2 separate regions of the Homo sapiens genome follow, and region 1 is linked to region 2. The links come from fine-mapping of genetic effects on gene expression. A gene starts in region 2. The other region holds a variant in brackets. All regions are shown on one strand. Distances are between the middles of the regions.

The links. PIP is the estimated chance that this variant, and not a neighbour inherited with it, causes the effect.
Region 1: its variant is fine-mapped to the expression of DNPEP in spleen (GTEx, PIP 0.98).

What each region holds. Positions count from the first base shown.
Region 1 is chr2:219,418,814-219,428,170 of GRCh38, reverse strand. It overlaps DES (desmin), which reads right to left. Exons shown (of 9, transcript NM_001927.4): 1 at 9,131-9,357; 2 at 8,016-8,076; 3 at 7,825-7,920; 4 at 7,515-7,676; 5 at 7,218-7,343; 6 at 6,611-6,831; 7 at 4,351-4,394; 8 at 2,426-2,508; 9 at 1,437-2,222. The coding sequence ends at 2,181. Among named protein-coding and RNA genes, the nearest start is that of DES, 5.1 kb to the right of the region's middle. The variant T/G (reference allele first, on the strand shown) is at 6,095.
Region 2 is chr2:219,382,988-219,392,489 of GRCh38, reverse strand. It overlaps DNPEP (aspartyl aminopeptidase), which reads left to right and starts at 4,578. Exons shown (of 15, transcript NM_012100.4): 1 at 4,578-4,731; 2 at 5,327-5,420; 3 at 5,510-5,598; 4 at 5,712-5,825; 5 at 6,079-6,204; 6 at 6,392-6,522; 7 at 6,784-6,859; 8 at 6,959-7,066; 9 at 8,047-8,124; 10 at 9,276-9,359. The coding sequence starts at 4,696. It overlaps DNPEP-AS1 (DNPEP antisense RNA 1), which reads right to left and starts at 3,920. Exons shown (of 4, transcript NR_183823.1): 1 at 3,694-3,920; 2 at 3,442-3,603. RefSeq lists silencers at 3,777-3,926, 4,007-4,526, 4,547-4,786 and an enhancer at 5,051-5,897.

The DNA.
Region 1 (9,357 bases), 36 kb before region 2:
TCCCCACAAATTCAAAATGCCTCCTTTAACATGTGTATGTCTCCTGTATGTGAGTCTTGTTCTAAACACACTATTTTGTTCATTAATATTTGTATATTTCCTCTTCATTAACAAATCTGTTAATTATCATAGCCTTCTAATATATTTTGATGTTCTTTCTATGATTTCCTAATTTTTTTCCTTTTTCTTTTTTTGAGACAGAGTCTCACTCTGTCACCCAGGCTGGAGTTAGTGGTACAATCTCAGCTCACTGAAGCCTCGACCTCCTGGGCTCAAGCTATCCTCCCACCACAGCCTCCCAAGTAGCTGGAACTACAGGCTCATACCACCATGCCAGGCTAATTTTTTATTTTTTGTAGAGTCAGGGTCTCGTTACATTGCCCAAGCTGGTCTCAAACTCCTGGGCTCAAGAGATCCTCCCACCTCAGCCTCCAAAAGTGCTGGGATTACAGGTGGAGTCACTGTGCCCAGCCTCCTAATTTTTTTCATACGTCTTACACTCCCCTCCCATCTTCTCCAATTCTCTTAAAATTTTTATTTGGTATTTTAATTGAGATTGCATGGCATTGAAATTATAGATGAATGGAAAATGAATTGACTTCTCTTCAGAGTATTGAACCTTCTTATCGAAGCACAGAACAGATCTTTCCATTTTTCCAAACATTATTTTTCCTGAATTGGCTCCTGTGTATAAAAATAGTATTGGAAGGAGTTAATAGAAAGAGGCCATTGGCTCACATCTGTAATCCCAACACTTTGGGAGGCTGAGGTAGCAGGAGGAGCAATTGAGCCCAGAAATTCAAGACCAGCCTCAGCAACACAGAAAGACCTTGTCTCTACAAAAAATAAAAAGCTAGCCAGGCATGGTGGTGTGAACCTGTGGTCCCAGCTACTTGGGAGGCTGAGGTGGGAGGATCGCTTGAGCTCAGGAAGTCCAGGCTGCAGTAAGCCGTGATCACACTGCTGCACTCCAGCCTGGGTGACACAGCAAGACTCCATCTCAAAAAGAAAAAAAGAGAGAGAGAAAAAAAAGGGGCTGTTGGCATCTTTGAAGAAGGGACTGGGGGAGCCCTACTTCAGAGCCAGTCAGTGGGGAGCAGCTACATCCTTCAAAAGGAATAGCAGGTGGTGTCCCCCAGCCTGGCTGACCTGAAGGTGTAGTAGAGAGCACAAGGGGTGCAGTCCTGGAACTGGGGCCTAACGAGAGGTATTTGTGGTTCCCCAACAAAAGCCCTGTCCAGCCCTCCCTGCCCCATACACTGCATACAGACATCAAGGCCAGGTGGCTCTGGGAACAGAAGTGGGCGCGAGGCCCTGGGGAAAGTCTGGCTGGGTAGAAGGTCAGTATAGTCCATCTCAGGGTGACAGGTTGTATCACAGGGCCCCAGGGGCCCCACAGGAGACCTGGCAGTCAAGACAACAGGGGCCAGCTTGGCTTGTGTGTGAATCTCTTTATTGTTTCTCTCCAGAGCCCCTGCAGCAGGGGAGGGGAGGGCGTGGGGAGGTGGGCGCCCCTCCCACCAGCCTGAGACCGCTCTCTGCCTCTCTCCTCTCCTCTCTTCTCCAGCATCTCACCCACTTTCTCTCCTTCTCAATCTCCTGCTCCCACCTCCAGCACCTTCGGGGATTCCCTCTTGTAGCCCCTGCTTTCTAAGTCCACCCTGGGCTGGGGAAAGGAAAGTAAGAGACCACGGGGACAATTTCAAGCCCCCCAGTCTCCACAGGGGCTAGTCCCCCTGGCTACCTGCCTGGCTTTCTCTCTCCTGGGCTAGGGGCTGGGGAGGTCTGCGGGGCTCAGTCCTGGCCCTGCAGTATCCCAACACCCTGCTCTGGGGCTGTCTCCAGAGCCAAAGGCTAGTGCCTGAGGTCACAGAGGTGGGAGGGACAGGGCCACCGCTCCCGCCTGGGCTCCATCCAGCACAAGAGCCAGGCTCACTCACTGCCAACAGCCAAGGCTCACAGCTGGGGTCCGCAGAGGTGGCCGGGGCATGCCCTGTGACCAGGCAGGGATGGGCTATGTCGCTGTTGGGGACCACGAGGGATGGCCAGTGAGGAGGGGTCAGAGGCTGTGAGGGGAGGACTGAGGCTGGGTGTGGTGTCCTGGGATGGAAGAAGGCTGGCTTCAGGGAGCAGTGAGGACAGGGGTGAGGACGGTCTCTGGTGGCAGAGGGTCTCTGTCTTTAGAGCACTTCATGCTGCTGCTGTGTGGCCTCACTGACGACCTGGGGAGGAAGAGAAGCCCAGTCCAACCATGTGCTAGCCAGAGAATGGAGCCTCAGCCCTGAGCCATCCCCACCCCAGGGCCGCAGGATCTCTCTTGCCCCACTAGCCAGGGACCTAGACCAGCACAGCTGGGTGGAAGACAGTCCCCCCAGACACATCCATAGCCCCCACCAAGGGTAAGGAGCCCAGACAGACCACTTACCTCCCCATCCCGTGTCTCGATGGTCTTGATCATCACCGTCTTCTTGGTATGGACCTCAGAACCCCTTTGCTCAGGGCTGGTTTCTGTAACAGGGTCCATCGCACACTCAGCCTGACCAAGTCCAGGCTGGGCTATACCAGGGGCTGGGAGTCCATCTGGGGCCACATTGGGCAGAGCCCTAGCAGACCCCAACCCCCCTCAAGACAGGCTTGTTACTTCTTCAAGACTTTAACACCTTTCCTTCAGCCCAGCACCCAGCAGGTGGTTCTGCAGTCCCCAGCGCCTGTCCCATAGTTTAGATGGTCTCAGGAGCCAACAGATTTGCTCCATGTGCAGGATGGTGCAGGAGGGTAGGGGACACCTGAGGCCCAGGCTGCACAGCACTGACATTCCCCATCCCTCCTAGTTCCTCTCCACCCCCAGGCCCCAGGAGAGCCCTGCACACATTTGTCTCCTGGGACTCCCCTTCTTCAAGATAGAACCCCAAAGCCCAGTCTCAAGACACTCTTTAGAGGACCTTACAGTACCTATCTCCCTTTAAGATTTCAGGGCCAGGTGCGGTGGCTCACATCTGTAATCCCAGTAGTTTGGGAGACCGAGGCAGGTGGATCATGAGGCCAGGAGTTCCAGACCACCCTGACCAACATGGTGAAACCCCGTCTCTACTAAAAATACAAAAATTAGGGGGGCGTGGTGGCACATGCCTGTAATCCCAGCTACTCAGGAGGCTGAGGCAGGAGAATTGCTTGAACCTGGGAGGCGGAGGTTGCGGTGAGCCGAGATTGCACCACTGCACTCCAGCCTGGGCGACAGAGCGAGACTCCGTTTCAAAAGAAAAAAAAAATTCAGATGAGCAACTTGATGTCTTAAAGTGAGACAGAGCAGGAATAAGGCACTGACTCATTGTGCTGATGCTCAGTCACTTGCCATTCTGTGCCTCAGTTTCCTCACTGAGGACACGGAGTGAAGTGGTACCAACCTTATCATGGCCACAAAGCTATTGATTTGGAAAAGCACTGTGCAATGTGGGTGGAGTTTTTTGTACTATGAAGTTTTAAATGCAAGACTCATACTTGGTGTCTGTATAAACAACTAACTGAAAAGAGAGGCTCTGAGTTGTGTAGGAAAGGTCAAATGGAGGTCCTTGGTATTATGAGTTTGGTGCTTACGAATTTCCTTAGCTAGCAACCAGCCTGTGATGAATGTTGTGACTCGCTGGAGCGCAGCGTGTTTTTTTTCCTGATGGAAATGTACATCGAAGATAGAAAAGGTTTGATCTAGGAAAGGAGAAGCTGCCAAGGACTCCGACTTGCTTTCCTAATGCATCATTATCGTGTGTTTCTCTGCTCTCTGGGGTTGGAAAGCCACCCGATCTGCGTATTACTAATGTCAAAATGGCAGAGTGCCCTAAGAGCTCGTTCTTTTCATTGTTTGGCTTTGCTAAGATTTGGCATTTTTTTCCAAACGTGCATCCAACATCTTGCTCCAGCAAACTGGAGGTGTTCGACAAGCAGCCAAGGTGGGGCTTGGCAATGTGCCAAACAGACAATGGGCTGTGGGTGTCTTAGAGGGCAGGTGGTATGAGATGCTCCTGAAGCCAGGTCCCCAAGGACACTCCTGCTTTCAGAGTTTGGGATTCAGAACAGAGGCTGCTTCCTGAGGCCCAATACTCCAAGAAGGTGCAGGGGACATGGTAAATACAATACAATATAATCACATAAAAAGCTCTCTCTGTCATAAGTTGCCTCATCCACCTCTACCTAAACTCCCCCACCTACCCGCAGTGGTCCCCTTTTTCTTCCCCAGACTCCAGGTCTGTCCCTAGCCCCAGGGTCCCATCCTCCCTCCTGGCTGGCCTTGGGCAGTGCCCATGCTGGACTCCTGGCCCCTGCAACTCCAGCCTCCGCCTGCCAGCAGACACTCACCTCGGAAGTTGAGGGCAGAGTAGGTCTGGATGGGGAGATTGATCCTAAAAGGGAAGAGACAAAACCTCCTAAGAGTTAAGAACCCTCCCATCGGCCGGGCCCAGCTGTAATCCCAGCACTTTGAAAGGCCGAGGCGGGCGGATCACCAGGTCAGGAGATCGAGACCATCCTGGCTAACACAGTGAAACCCCGTCTCTACTAAAAATACAAAAAATTAGCCGGGCATGGTGGCGGGCACCTGTAGTTCCAGATACTCAGGAGGGTGAGGCAGGAGAATGGTGCGAACCCAGGAGGTGGAGCTTGCAGTGAGCGGAGATTGCACCACTGCACTCCAGCCTGGGGGACAGAACAAGACCCTGTCTCAAAAAAAAAAAAAAAAGAACCCTCCCATCTTTCCCTGAGACCGCCCATCAAGGCTCACCCTGGTCCTTTCTAAACACCATCCTCAGCTGTCCCAGTCCCACGGACCCCAGCACTCCCACCACCCATACTGCTCAAGGAATGGGGTCGAAGGCCAGCTAGAGCTGTCCCAGGAATAGTCTCTTCTGGAAGGATCATTATTTCAACTGTGAACTGCTGGCACGACACTAGGATGTGCAACCCCACCGCGCCCTCCAGAGCACCAGGATTTCCTTCTTGCTCCTGGCACTGAAGTTGGTACTAGTAGCAGCTGTGGGTGATATCCATTGCTCATGCCCACCCTCCAGCCAGGCCAGTTCTGAGAGCTTACTATTTAGGCCTAATGCTGGGAAAATGCAACATGCCTTTAGCTACCTTCAAAGGCCATCATATGTAGACGTGATTTTACAAAATCTGAAGTTTCTCTTTATGTTTGTACCTGTATCTAAACATGTCTGCTCCTTTTTAAAAATTTCAGATATTATTTTTATGAGTATCAAGGGGTACCAGTTTTTGGAGTAACTGATCTGTTTTAAATTGAGGTTAAATTTACATACAGTGAAATGCACAGATCTTTAATGTACAATTCAATGAGTTTTGATCAATGTCCACGTCTGTGTAACTACCAGTCCAAATCAAGATATAGAACATTTCTAGGCCAGGCACAGTGGCTCATGCCTATAATCCCAGCACTTTGGGAGGCTGAGGCAGGCGAATTACTTGAGGTCAGGAGTTAGAGTCCAGCCTGACCAACATGGTGAAACCTCATCTCTACTAAAAATACAAAAAATCAGCTGAGTGTGTTGGCACACGCCTGTAATCCCAGCTACTAGGGAGGCTGAGACAGGAGAACCGCTTGAGCCTGGGAGGCAGAGGTTGCAGTGAGCTGAGATCACACCACTGCACTCCAGCCTGGGTGACAGAGCAAGACTCTGTCTCAAAAAAAAAAAAAAAAAAAGATATAGAACATTTCTGTTATCCCACAAGGTTCCCTGGTGTCCCTTTCCAGTTGTATGTTGTTTTCTGTGTCTAGAGGTGGGTTGCTCTGAGCATGACGTCTGTGTCTTTTCCTCCGAACATGTGCATATGCTGACATGTGTGCATGTGTGTGCAAACTCATGCCTTCTGTATGCATCTCTTTACCTTCTCTTAGCCTATCCCTGTGCAAGGCTTCTCTCCCTCCCTCTCTCTATTTGCCTCTATCTGCTCCCTCCGTTTCCCTCCTCATCACTCCCCATTCTGCTTTCATCTCTCCCTTGACTGGCAGTAATATTTTATTATTGGTTGCTGAATATGGTTTTTTTTGCTGCTGGTTCTTAATTCTGAAGGTGGATAAGGGAATACT[T/G]ATATTTCTCTTTTTATAAATGCTGTTAATTAAATTGCTTTTTACCCAGGTGGCCTTGGTTAATTCTCTGCAATTAATAGAGCAGTGGCCTCTTGTATAAAATTGTTTCCACGCCGGGTGCGGTGGCTCACGCCTGTAATCCCAGTACTTTGGGAGGCTGAGGTAGGCAGATCACCTGAGGTCAGGAGTTCGAGACCAGCTGCCCAACATAGTGAAACCCCGTCTCTACTAAAAATACAAAAATTAGCCAGGCGTGGTGGTAGGCGCCTGTAATCCCAGCTGCTCGGGAAGCTGAGGCAGGAGAATTGCTTGAACCCAGGAGGCGGAGGTTGCAGTGAGCCAAGATGGTGCCATTGCACTCCAGACTGGGCGACAAGAGCGAAACTCCATCTCAAAAAAAAAAAAAATTGTTTCCAGGTCTTGTTGAGGTAATCAGTAATCTCGAGCCTCCTGGGGACAGAAATGGACCACCCAGCACCCCGCACCTCCCACTCGGGCTCCTGCCTGGCCCCTCACCGGCTCTCCTCTCCCTCCAGCAGCTTCCGGTAGGTGGCAATCTCCACATCCAGGGCCATCTTCACGTTGAGCAGGTCCTGGTACTCGCGCAGATGGCGGGCCATCTCATCCTTGAGGTGCCGGATTTCCTCCTCCAGGCGCGCAATGTTGTCCTGGTAGCCACTGGCCTCACTGGCAAATCGGTCCTCCAATTCCCGCATCTGCCTCATCAGGGAATCGTTCTGCAGGAGAGGGGGAACCCAGGTCAAGGAAGGGAAGAGGACACTAGCAGCCCAAAGAAAGCTTTGGGGCTGGCAGGCAACTCCAGATGGTCAGGTCCAGGCCATGTTGAACCCTGAACTCAAATTAAGTCTATATGTGAACACTCAGAATAAAATAGATACAAAGGAACATTGCATTCAGCCTCACAGTCCCCACATAGGTAGATGCCCAGGAACCCCTGATTCCTTAGCATCCAACTGGAATCCACTTGTCTGGTTTTACCCCTATTGTAGATTTAAGTAGATGAAGGCCCAGAGAGGATCTATGATGGGCCCAAGGTCACAAAGTGAGGGTGTGAACTGCAGACAGGAAGGGGCAGGGCCTGGCCAGGTGGGCAGGGACTCACAGTGCCCTTCAGGGCGTCAATCTCGCAGGTGTAGGACTGGATCTGGTGTCGGTATTCCATCATCTCCTGCTTGGCCTGGCGCAGGGCGTCGTTGTTCTTGTTGGCTGCCTGGGTCAGGTCTGACACCTAAGGGCAGAGAAAGGGGCCCAAAAATGAGAAGGATGCAGGGCACGGGTAGGGATGAGCAAGGGAGCATGAAGCCTCTGGGCTCTCCTCCCATGGATGGTACCACAGGCAGCACATCCAAGCTGGGATTCAGGGGGACGGAGATGCCAGTCCCCGGGCGAGGCCACCCACCTTCGACTTGTACCACTCCTCAGCTTCAGAAATGTTCTTAGCCGCGATGGTCTCATACTGAGCCCGGATGTCCCTGAGGGCGGCAGTGAGGTCTGGCTTAGACATGTCCATCTCCACCTGGACCTGCTGTTCCTGAAGCTGAGCCTGCAACTCACGGATCTCCTGTAGGGCATGACTGGGCTTCAGTCCCCTCTCAGGGCCCACACAGCACCCTCACACCCCTATTCCCAGCCAGAGCCTCACCCCAACCCCACTTTCCGGCTGCTTTCCCCATGGCCCAGTGACCCCAGGAAGAGGGGCCAAGGTATACCTCTTCATGCACTTTCTTAAGGAACGCGATCTCCTCGTTGAGAGATTCAATTCTGCGCTCCAGGTCAATGCGAGCTAGAGTAGCTGCATCCACGTCCTGGGAGAGGCCAAGCGAGAAGGACATGGTCACCGCCACCCAGGTGGGGCAGAGCAAGGCCAGAGGCCATGCAAGGGGAAAAGAAGGGCACTCACCGCTCGGAAGGCAGCCAAATTGTTCTCTGCTTCTTCCTTCAACTGAATCTCCTCCTGCAGCCTGGGTGGGACAGACAGAAAGACAGACAGTTGCGGGTGATAAAGCTGGCAGTGGAAACGACTGGCCGGGGGCTGACCAGGGGGTGGGTCCAGGACAGAGCGGGAGGGCCTGGCTGCTGGGTAGAGGCAGGAGAGACAGGGAGTGGAGAGGCCCCACCCACCCAGGGAGGGCACAGGAAGTGGCCCAATCTCTGCCCAGGAGCCACACCCTTGAAGTCTATGTCCCCACCAGACTGTGTGACCTCCCTGGGGTTAGAAACTGTGTCTATTTTATCCACCTCTGTGTTTCTGGTTCCCAGCTCCAGCCTGGCCAATATAGCTGCTCAATTAATATTTATGACTTTGGTGGCAGGAGGGTGACTGTGCTCACTTGGCCTGTCAGAAGTGGGACCAACAAATATGCTACACTTGCTGCCCTTTTCGTTCTTGGAGCCTGGTGAAGTCTACAGTCAGGTCCTCCCAAGCTCTCTGAGAGCTGTGACCCCCACCTACTCCCTTTTTCTCCAGCCTGTCCATTCACCTTGTAAAAAGACACAGTCTCGGCAAGGCCCCAGGGCCAAGCTCCCCCCTCCCCCCACCTCCCCCAGGGCCTCATCACAGCTGAGCTGAGAGCTGTTGCTTGGACTCTGGGCCCTTGCCCTGCTTTCCCTGTCTCCTATCAGCCTCCCTTCTCCCTCTGGCTACACTGCCCTCTGGGCCTCCTGCAGCCCTTCCTCTGCCCATCAACTACCTGACCCCATAAATATCGCCCCAGCATCTTAAAATGCTTTTTAACGGGGCTGTCCACAGGGCACCGGGTCCCCTAAATTCTCCCATATCCACCCCCTGATCTATGTCCCCAAGAAAACTCCTGTGCAAGATGGGATCGCAGGGGGAGAGACCTGGAGGTCACGGCCCCTTGAAACACACAGGTGGAGGACCCTTTCTCCACATGGGGCAGGAGAGGGTCCCGGGCCCCGGGAGAAGGCAGGTGCTGACAGCGGGACCCCAGACCCCAGGCCTAGCCTCCTGTGCCCTGCCCGCAGAAAGAGGAGTCTGGGGTGCCGGGCCCTCACTTGGCCTTGAGCCGCTGCAGGTCGTCGAGCAGGTTGTCGCGCTCGACGTCGACGCGCGCGCGCTGGTTAGTGAGCACCTCCACCTGGCGCCGCAGCTCCCGCAGCTCCTCCTCGTAGAGCTCGGCCACTCGCGTCGGCTCGCGGCCCTTGAGCCGGTTCACTTCGGCGGCGAGCGCCGCGTTCTGCTGCTCCAGGAAGCGCACCTTCTCGATGTAGTTGGCGAAGCG
Region 2 (9,502 bases):
TATAATCCCAGCTACATGGGAGGCTGAGGCAGGAGAATCACTTGAACCCAGGAGGCGGAGATTGCAGTGAGCTGAGATGGTTGCCACTGCCCTCTAGCTTGGGCAACAGAGCGAGACTCCGTCTCAATAAAAAAAAAAAAAAAAGACATATGTATCTTATAAACTCACACTGAAGTGTATGTAACTGACTTCTATGTTCACGCAAAAGTATTTGCACTTTAATATGTGTTAAACCAAAAAGATGAATGAATAATGGTAGCATTGTAAACATCAGCCGAGATCTTCCAGGGAAGATTTTCTCAGAAGGCCAAGGGCAAGAACGATTCTCAGAAACTTTTTCTTTCTTGATCCCTAGTCATCCCTTGACTTTGCCACCTGAACTCCAAATCCATCACCATTCCCTTACCCAGAGGTGACCATTATCCTTCCAAACCTGTTTCTATCCATTTACATATGTATTTATATAACATCTAGAAATATAAATTTAGCTCATTGTGTGAGTTTTATCTAAAGGCCCTCACCTTACATTCTAGAAATTGCTTTTTTTTTTCACTCAACAGTATATTTGGAATTCTTTTCTGTAACAATTCCTAAAGACTGACCTTTTTTTTTTTTTTATGAACTGCTACACAGCACTTTAAAATACTGTGTCTCAAGCATTCAAATCATCTAGGAATCTTGTTAACATGCAGATGCTGATTCTATAACTCTAGGGTAAGCCCTGAGGTTCTGCATTTCTAAAAAGCTCCCAGATGTTATTGACATTGCTGGTCAACAGATCACACATTTAGTAGCAAAGATGTACAGTACGGGTGGAATAGTGTGCTGGGGCCAACTTGGACAAGCTCATGAGAACTGATTGTCAAATTTCCAGGAATTTGGTGAGCTTGTTGTTAAACACAGCAATCATTAAAAAAAACTAAATTATATACACTTACAATTAAATAAATTATATTACAGATAATGAAAACCAAAAATCCATCACCTTTCCAAACATTTTACTGCCTTCTTAAATCTATGCTGTTGATGTTATTTCTATCCATTGTGTCTGCATGGTGGAAATCTACATAATGGCATGCTTCCGCACAGCTCTTCCCAACTCCCTTCAGTGACATCATCTCGACAGCTTGAAATCGGCCACGGGGAACATTTACACCACAGAAATTTGGGTATAAAGGTCTGTGCAAACATACCCCCAAAGTTCAGGGAAGCTGAAAAGCCGACGAAAGAGGCTGACATATACAGTCTCTCAGAAAGAAACATTTCATAGGGACTTATGAATAGAGGCCATAGTTTCAGAGATGAAATGGTGGATTACCCTGCAAACCCAGGGCTTACATACCATAGGGAAACAATGTGTCAAACAATTGAAGTTGACCCCTCAGGCAAAGTCATGAATGCTATGTGAATCTGTCTAAGCGCAGGATTTATGGTAATAGTAGGTAAAGTAGAAAACTTAGAGTCATTCCTGGAACAGGTTGTTGAAAAGTCAACATGGCAGATTAGCTTCCCAGATGGAGTTGCTTTAGCCTCCAGAAAATGCTTGCATTACCCCAAGCCTTCTCCAACACTTGATATTACCCATCTTTTCCATTTTTGTTAATCTGCTCAATAAAAAGAAAAAGTATCTCATTTTTATTATTTATTAATTTTTTTTTTGAGTTGGAGTCTCGCACTTGTTGCCTGGGCTGGAGTGCAATGGCACGATCTCGGCTCACTGCAACCTCTGCCTCCCGGGTTCAAGCAGTTCTCCTGCCTCAGTCTCCTGAGTAGCTGGGATTACAAGTGCACACCACCATGTCCAGCTAATTTTTTGTATTTTTAGCCAGGCTAGTCTCAAACTCCTGACCTCGTGATCCACCCGCCTTTGCCTCCCAAAGTGCTGGGATTACAGGCATGAGCCACCACGCCCAACTGTTATCTCATTTTTAACTTGCATTTTCCTGTTTAAAGTGAGATTAGGTGTCTCATATGTTCATGACTAGAAATTTAACAATATTTCTTGCTCTTGTAAATATAGCCCTTTTACTTTTTTCTTTTTTACCCAAACCAAAAATGGTCAATAAGAACCTTTTTACTTTTATATTTTCTAGGTGATTATTGTACAAGAAAGTCAGTGTTTTTTAAATTAGGCTACCCTTCCTACCAGTTCTAATAATAGCTTGATCGTTTATTTTCTTGGGGATTCTAGATAATCATATAATCTATAAATAATGACCAATTTTACTTTTGCACATATAGAATTGTTAATTTTGTTTTGTGGTACTGGCTCTGACTACAGCTCCACATTGTCTAGCAGCAGTAATAGCTCATCAATGTCTCACTTCTGATTTGAATAGGAACACTTCTGTATTTCCCTCCCAAAATGCTGGGATGACAGGCGTGAGCCACCACTCCCGGCTCACTTTCTAAGTTATGCATTTTGGTGATGTTTGAATCTCTTACTCAAGCATGTACTCTTTTCTGTGATCAGAAAGAACATTAAAGGTGGTTCCTTATTCAGGTTGTCTCCTTCCCTTATACATTGTAGCCTTGTTTCGGCCCTTTCACTGTCCTCCTTGAATGTGTCCCCTCCCCAGGAGGTAGAGGACAAGAATGCTCTCTCCATGTCCTGCTCAGCATTGAGCTTTATACATAATTTTATTTATTTATTTATTGAGACAGAATCTCACTCTGTCGCCCAGGCTGGAGTGCAGTGGCACGATCTCAGCTCACTGCAACCTCCACCTCCCGGGTTCAAGCGATTCTCTTGCCTCAGCCTCCCAAGTAGCTGCTGGGATTACAGGCACGTGCCACTACACCCGGCTAATTTTTGTATTTTTTGTAGAGACGGGGTTTCACCATGTTGGTCAGACTGGTCACGAACTCCTGACCTCAAGTGATCTACCCGCCTCGGCCTCCCAAAGTGCTGGGATTACAGGCGTGAGCCACTGCGCCAGGCCCATAATGGTATTTCAACAAACGGTTAGGGAATGCCATGAATTTAAGCCAGCACCTAGTGGGTGAATTCTTGAAAACTCCCCTGCCATATCTACTAGTTTGAAGTGAGGGCTGCAGGACCTTTCCAGCCTCTCCCCATCCCACCCTGTCACTCCCCACCCCAGGTATATAAACGGCAGGTTGCTCCATAAACCTGTGATCTCTGGAATTTTGTTTGAACCCCTGGTAGCTGGGCCCTGTTTTGGATCTAGAGGCCACCAAGAGTCCTGATCAGTTCCTGCAGCTAGGAAGGTGCATGGGGTTTAAACGTGCTACTCACTACTCCTGACATGGGAATACTGGAACTGCCAATAATGTGGAATTTGTTTTTCTGTTGTTTTTAACAAATGGAAAGGGCACAGATATCAGAGTCAAATCCCAGATCCACCCAAACAGCTATGTGATCTTGGGCAAGTCAACTTCTGTGTCCCTTGTGGACCTCCCGTGTAACATAACACTTACCAAAGCGCATAGAAAAAGGTCCAGAAAAGATCTGAGAGAAGGCTGTAGGGTTGTTCCAGGCCTCTGCAATCAAACTGATGGAGTTCAAACCCCACCTGTGCCGTTTATTACCTCGACGGATCACTAGTCTCCGTATCTCAGCTTTCTCTGTTCATGCATAAACTGGGGACAGTAAGAGTACATAGTTGATGGGGCAGTTGTGAAGATTAAACGAGGTAACAGGCCAATCTTTATCATAAAGCTAAAGCTCACCGTGAGCGCCCCATGGACATTAGCCTTATTGCTTTTATTGTCACAAAGGTGGCTGTGGCGAGAGACAGCACTTTGTACCGTACCCGTCGGACCCGGTGAGCTGGAGGGGCGAGCTTTTTATTGGCCTCGAGGCCCGGGGCACGGGGAGGCGGGCCGTCCGCGGCTGTCCTAGCACCTCCGCGGCAGCAGAGGGCCCTGGCGGCGGCTGCGGGTCGCGCGGCGTGGGTGACGGGGGTGCAGGGCGGGGCCTAACGAGCAGCCCCCGCAGGGGCGGAGACGAGGGCGGGCCGGAGGCGGAGGCGCGGCCTGGAGAGGGATGGGGCGGAAGCGGGGCGGGCGGTGCAGCCTAGCGAGGGGCGGGGCGGACGAGGAAGCGTGACGAGCGGCGGGGCGGGTGGAGCAGCCTGGCGAGGAGCGGGGCGGGGTGGGCGGCACGGCCTGACAAGGGGCGGGGAGCGCAAGGAGGCCTGACGAAGGGCGGGGCGGAGCAAGGGCGGGGGCAGGGCGAGTAGTGGGGTACAGCGAGGGCCGGAGCGGATGGGGGAAACCTGGTGAGGGGCGGGACAAAGCGGGGAGGGCGGTGCAGCCTGGCGAGAGGCGGGGCGGACGAGGAAGCTTGACGAGGGGCGGGGCGGGCGGTGCAGCCCTGCGAGGGGCAGGGCGGGCGGTGCTTCCTGGCGAGGGGCGGGGCGGGGCGGGCGGTGCGGCCAAGCTAGGGGCGGGGCAAGGGCGGGGCAAGGCGGGTGGTGGTGCCCAGCGAGGGGCGGAGCGGACAGGGTAAGCCCGCCGAGGGGCGGGGCTGACCGAGGTGGGCGGGGCGGATGCCGAGGGGCGGGGAGAGGTGGGCGGGGAGGCCAAACATGGGGCGGGGCGGCGCGGCCGGGGAAGCGTGATGAAGGCCTACGAGTGCGGCGCGGCCTGAAGGGGCACGCGGGGGACCTGCAAAGCTAGTGAGGGGCGGGGCAGGCGGCGCGGTGGGGGCGGGCCGAGCCCGGAGGCCAGATGAGCGGACACAGCCCCACGCGCGGGGCCATGCAGGTAAGTGGCTCCCGACGGCCCCACTTGAATTTCGATCCCAGACCGGGTCCGGCGCCCTCCGGGGCCCAAGCTTAGCGCGGTGCTGCAGTGGGGCCGCCTGACCCAAAGCGAAACCGAAAGCCCCGCGGAGGGTGACCTGACGACTTTCCCGGGACTGGAAGGGGGAGTCCTGCGAGAGACTAGGTGGGTGCGAGAGAGGAGTCAGGGTGCTCCTTGGGGTACAGGGCTTTGGCTCCGGGCTGGGTACGCGCACGTGATGCAGGCCGCCTCAGAGTATGGGGCCCGCTTGGGATCCCGGAGTTTGGGAGCAGAACAGGATTTCCTAGCTGGGCAGGGACATGGGGGCGGGACTTAGGGAGTCGGGCTAAAGTTCGGATTAAGGGGCGGGCCTGGCTCATGATCCTGGGCCGGCGGGCTGAAGCTTTCAACGGAGTTTCAGCCCTGGGTTTGGGTCTCTCGGTGGGGACGGGCGGAAGCAGAGGTCTGTGCCTTAGAGTGGTCACTTCTGGGGGTGGGGATGGGAGAATCCTCGGAACCTGGGTGAAAGGTCAGGGGTCCCAGACCTTGTAAAAGTCTGAGCATCCCCCTCCCCTAGGTGGCCATGAACGGTAAGGCCCGCAAAGAGGCGGTGCAGACTGCGGCTAAGGAACTCCTCAAGTTCGTGAACCGGAGTCCCTCTCCTTTCCATGGTAAGCGGTGGCCAGGGCAAGGGAGGAGGGTGGAGGCTGATGCGCCCTTCACCAGCTTCCATCGCTGTGAGAGGGTGCTTTTCCCACAGCTGTGGCTGAATGCCGCAACCGCCTTCTCCAGGCTGGCTTCAGTGAACTCAAGGAGACTGAGAAATGGAATATTAAGCCCGAGAGCAAGGTACTGGGGGTGGGGTGGGGGTGGAAAGGCAGGTCCCTAGGCTGGTCTCCAAGCCCTGTGTGCCAGCTGAGTAATGCAACTCACACCCCTGTCTTTCCTCCCCTTCTCCTCAGTACTTCATGACCAGGAACTCCTCCACCATCATAGCTTTTGCTGTAGGGGGCCAGTACGTTCCTGGCAATGGCTTCAGCCTCATCGGGGCCCACACGGACAGCCCCTGCCTCCGGGTAAGGAACTCGGACGGTGTTGGGGTGGGAGGAGATGTCAGAGGGAGTACAGGGCAAAAGAGAACTAGGAGGTACAAACTGGGGCCTCTATCCCCTGGAGTAAGGGAGAAGGTAAACTTGTTGGCCCCTTCCTTCACACCTTGAGCCTTTCATGTGACACTAATATTCGCTGTCTGTTACTTATGAGTAGCCAAAGTCTCATCTCCACATATCGTCATGAAGCCTTCTCTGACTTCTCCATCTTTACACTCAGGTGAAACGTCGGTCTCGCCGCAGCCAGGTGGGCTTCCAGCAAGTCGGTGTGGAGACCTATGGTGGTGGGATCTGGAGCACCTGGTTTGACCGTGACCTGACTCTGGCTGGACGCGTCATTGTCAAGGTGGGAACCGAGGTTGGGGATGGCGGAGCCTCCTCAGAAGACTGACTGCCACACTCCTCAGGGTACCCGTGGGGAAGAGGGGTGGGGGCAGTCTGGTCAGAGGACCACCCTGCTTAGTCTGAGTGAAGTAAAGACTGACCACTGGGGTAGGAGGCACCCTGGGCTGACCTGGCCTGGCTGGCTGCAGTGCCCTACCTCAGGTCGGCTGGAGCAGCAGCTGGTGCACGTGGAGCGGCCCATTCTTCGCATCCCACACCTGGCCATCCATCTGCAGCGAAATATCAACGAGAACTTTGGGCCCAACACAGAGATGCATCTGTGAGACTGGGGCAGGGCTGCGGTGGCTGGGAGGGATGGAGAATGGTACCAGGTGATTATTACCTAATGGTAGCCATTAGGTCACATTTTACTCTTGGGACCCAGTTAATTTCTAAGGGTCCTCACAGCCTTGTGATTTGGGGAGTGGGCTGGGAATTGAAGGGCAGAGGCAGTTGCCCATCAGGAGGCACCTGAACTTATGGATGCCGCACTCAGCTGTGCCCTCCTCGCAATCCCCCCACAACCCACGTCTCCCCACAGAGTCCCCATTCTTGCCACAGCCATCCAGGAGGAGCTGGAGAAGGGGACTCCTGAGCCAGGGCCTCTCAATGCTGTGGTAAGAGAGTCTCCTGATCATGGGGAGGGCGGCAGAGTCCCCTGAGAAGTGGGGAGGAGAGGAGGAATGGACTCTTCCCAGCATCTTTCTGCTCTTCAGGATGAGCGGCACCATTCGGTCCTCATGTCCCTGCTCTGTGCCCATCTGGGGCTGAGCCCCAAGGACATAGTGGAGATGGAGCTCTGCCTTGCAGACACCCAGCCTGCGGTGAGGACTGGCTGTAGGAACCTGTGGGTGAAGGGCCTCCAGGATCCTGGCCACCCCTAGCCCGTCCTGCTGAAGCACCCATCACCTCCACCAAGCCCTCAGTAACTCTCATCCCCGTTTTTCCCAGTAGACACATCCCCCACTGCTTCTAGGGCGGTGGTTCTCAAAAAGACAAGTTCCCTACCCCAGACCTGCCCACTAGGACTATCTGGGAATTGGCCCTTTTTACAGATTCCCAAAGAGTTTCTTCTACAGGTGGGCCCTGTCTGCTTTGACCCACACTGACACTGAACTGCTTAGGGAAAGAGGCCTGGATGTGGCCATCTGTTCTCTGTCTCCCGGTTGCTGATGGTCAGAGATTGCTAAATCTTTGGATGCTGTGTCCTGCTTGAACACGTACTAAGTTTCTGTTTTTTGGCTGGTTTCCTCTGTTTACTTCTTTGGCCTTTTTGATGACAATTCAGCCCTTCCTTTTCTTGACCCACAGGAAGAGGTCAAGAGCTATTGGCCTCCACCCTTTTGTTCCTCAGCACCAACCCAGCCCCCTTCTCCAATCTCTGCTTGGTCCTGCCTAGCAAGGAATCCCAGCACTTTGGGAGGCTGAGGCGGGGGGAATCACATGAGGTCAGGAGTTCGAGACTAGCCTGACCACCATGGTGAAACCCTGTCTCTAATAAAAATACAAAAATTAGCTGGGCCTGGTGGTGCATGCCTGTAATCCCAGCTACTCAGGAGGCTGAGGCACGAGAATCCTTTGAACCCGGGAGGCGGAAGTTGCAGTGAGCCGAGATCGAGCCATTGCACTTCAGACTGGGCGACAAGAGCGAACCTTCATCTCAAAAAAAAGAAAAAACAAAATAGTGCCCTAAGCCAGGGGTCAGGGAGAGGTTGCGCAAGAAACCAAGGAGACCCTTGGGAGCAAAAGAAAGGTGAGTGGGGGTGGAGGGTTGAAGGTCGGGCTGACTGTCTTACCTCTCTAGGTCTTGGGTGGTGCCTATGATGAGTTCATCTTTGCTCCTCGGCTGGACAATCTGCACAGCTGCTTCTGTGCCCTGCAGGTGAGGAGCCGGGGCGCCCCAGGCAGCACATAACCACCAGCAGAGGTGGTATGTTTGGGGTCGGGGGAGCTGCCTAAAGCCCCAGCAGGTTGTGAGAGAGGGCCATTGTCTACCCGCTCAGTCTGCTGGTGCTGGATGGACCAGGAGGGGGCCCTAAATGTTGCAGCCTCAGCATCGCCACCTTTGGTCTCTGCCCTTGCACTATCAGGGTGTTGAGGCAAGAAGAAGGAGGAGAAGTTGTTTCAGGCACCATGGTCTCTTGTCCTAGCCTTGCTCCTGCTGCTTTTCCTGAAGTTAACAACCTCTGCCTCAGGGAAAGGCTTTATCATCCACAAGGCAGTATCATCCACCTCCTTCTGCTTCCTACGCCACTCCCCAGGCTTAAGACCCCAGCCTTCTCCCTGTTTCTTGGGATCTCAGTCAGGTAGCCTCTCTTCCTAGTCACCTTGATATTCCCCACCTTCTCTCCACCCTAGTCAGTTCCCTTTCTTTCTCTCCTCTTGCCCTTGATCTCCCTCTGCCTTTTTCTGCCTTTCCTTCCCTGTAATCCTGTGGCTGGAGATAGGCTTTGGGCTGTAATTGAGACCAGAGCTGGACCTGGGACCTGCATCTACTTCTGCAGGCAACCAGCCAGTCATGTCACCTTGATGGAGTCTGTCACCTCTTTGAACCTCAGTCTTTTCCCTGAGGCCAATCAGTTTATGTGATGTGTGTAGCCTTTTGGCTTTCCAGGACTCTCAGCTCTTCCTCTCTGTCCTCCACATCTTCTACTGCCTTTTGCATGGGAAGGTAGAGAACAACACCCAAAGGATGGTGTCTCCTGTCCCAGTTGAAAAGGTTTCTACCTAGCTATTGATCTGGCCAAAAAAAAAAAGAAAGAAAGAAAAAAAGAGAAAAAAAAGGTCCTCACCACACCTTAAAGGTTTCTACCTATGTAGCTATTTATTTGGCAAGAAAAAAAAGGTCCCCACCACACCCTCTGCCAGGCAGTGCCCTAATTGATAAAAGTCATGGCCATGGAAGGCAGACAGGGGAATGTGCACACCCAAGGTGCTGGTGGATGGGGGAGCGTGCACACCCAAGGTGCTGGTGGGCTGAGTTCCAGCAGAAGCAGGTTGGAGATGATGCTCTCATTTCCTTCCCTGAACCAGGCCTTGATAGATTCCTGTGCAGGCCCTGGCTCCCTGGCCACAGAGCCTCACGTGCGCATGGTCACACTCTATGACAACGAAGAGGTACGTGGAGGGTTCTGGGGAGGGTCACCTCTGCGGAGTCTTCCACAGCCAACTTGTTGTGCCAGGCATCCACCGTGAGCCAGGGCTCTTCTGGGGGCCCCAAGACAGGGGAGATGCTGCCTGTGCCTCCTTAGCACTTGGTG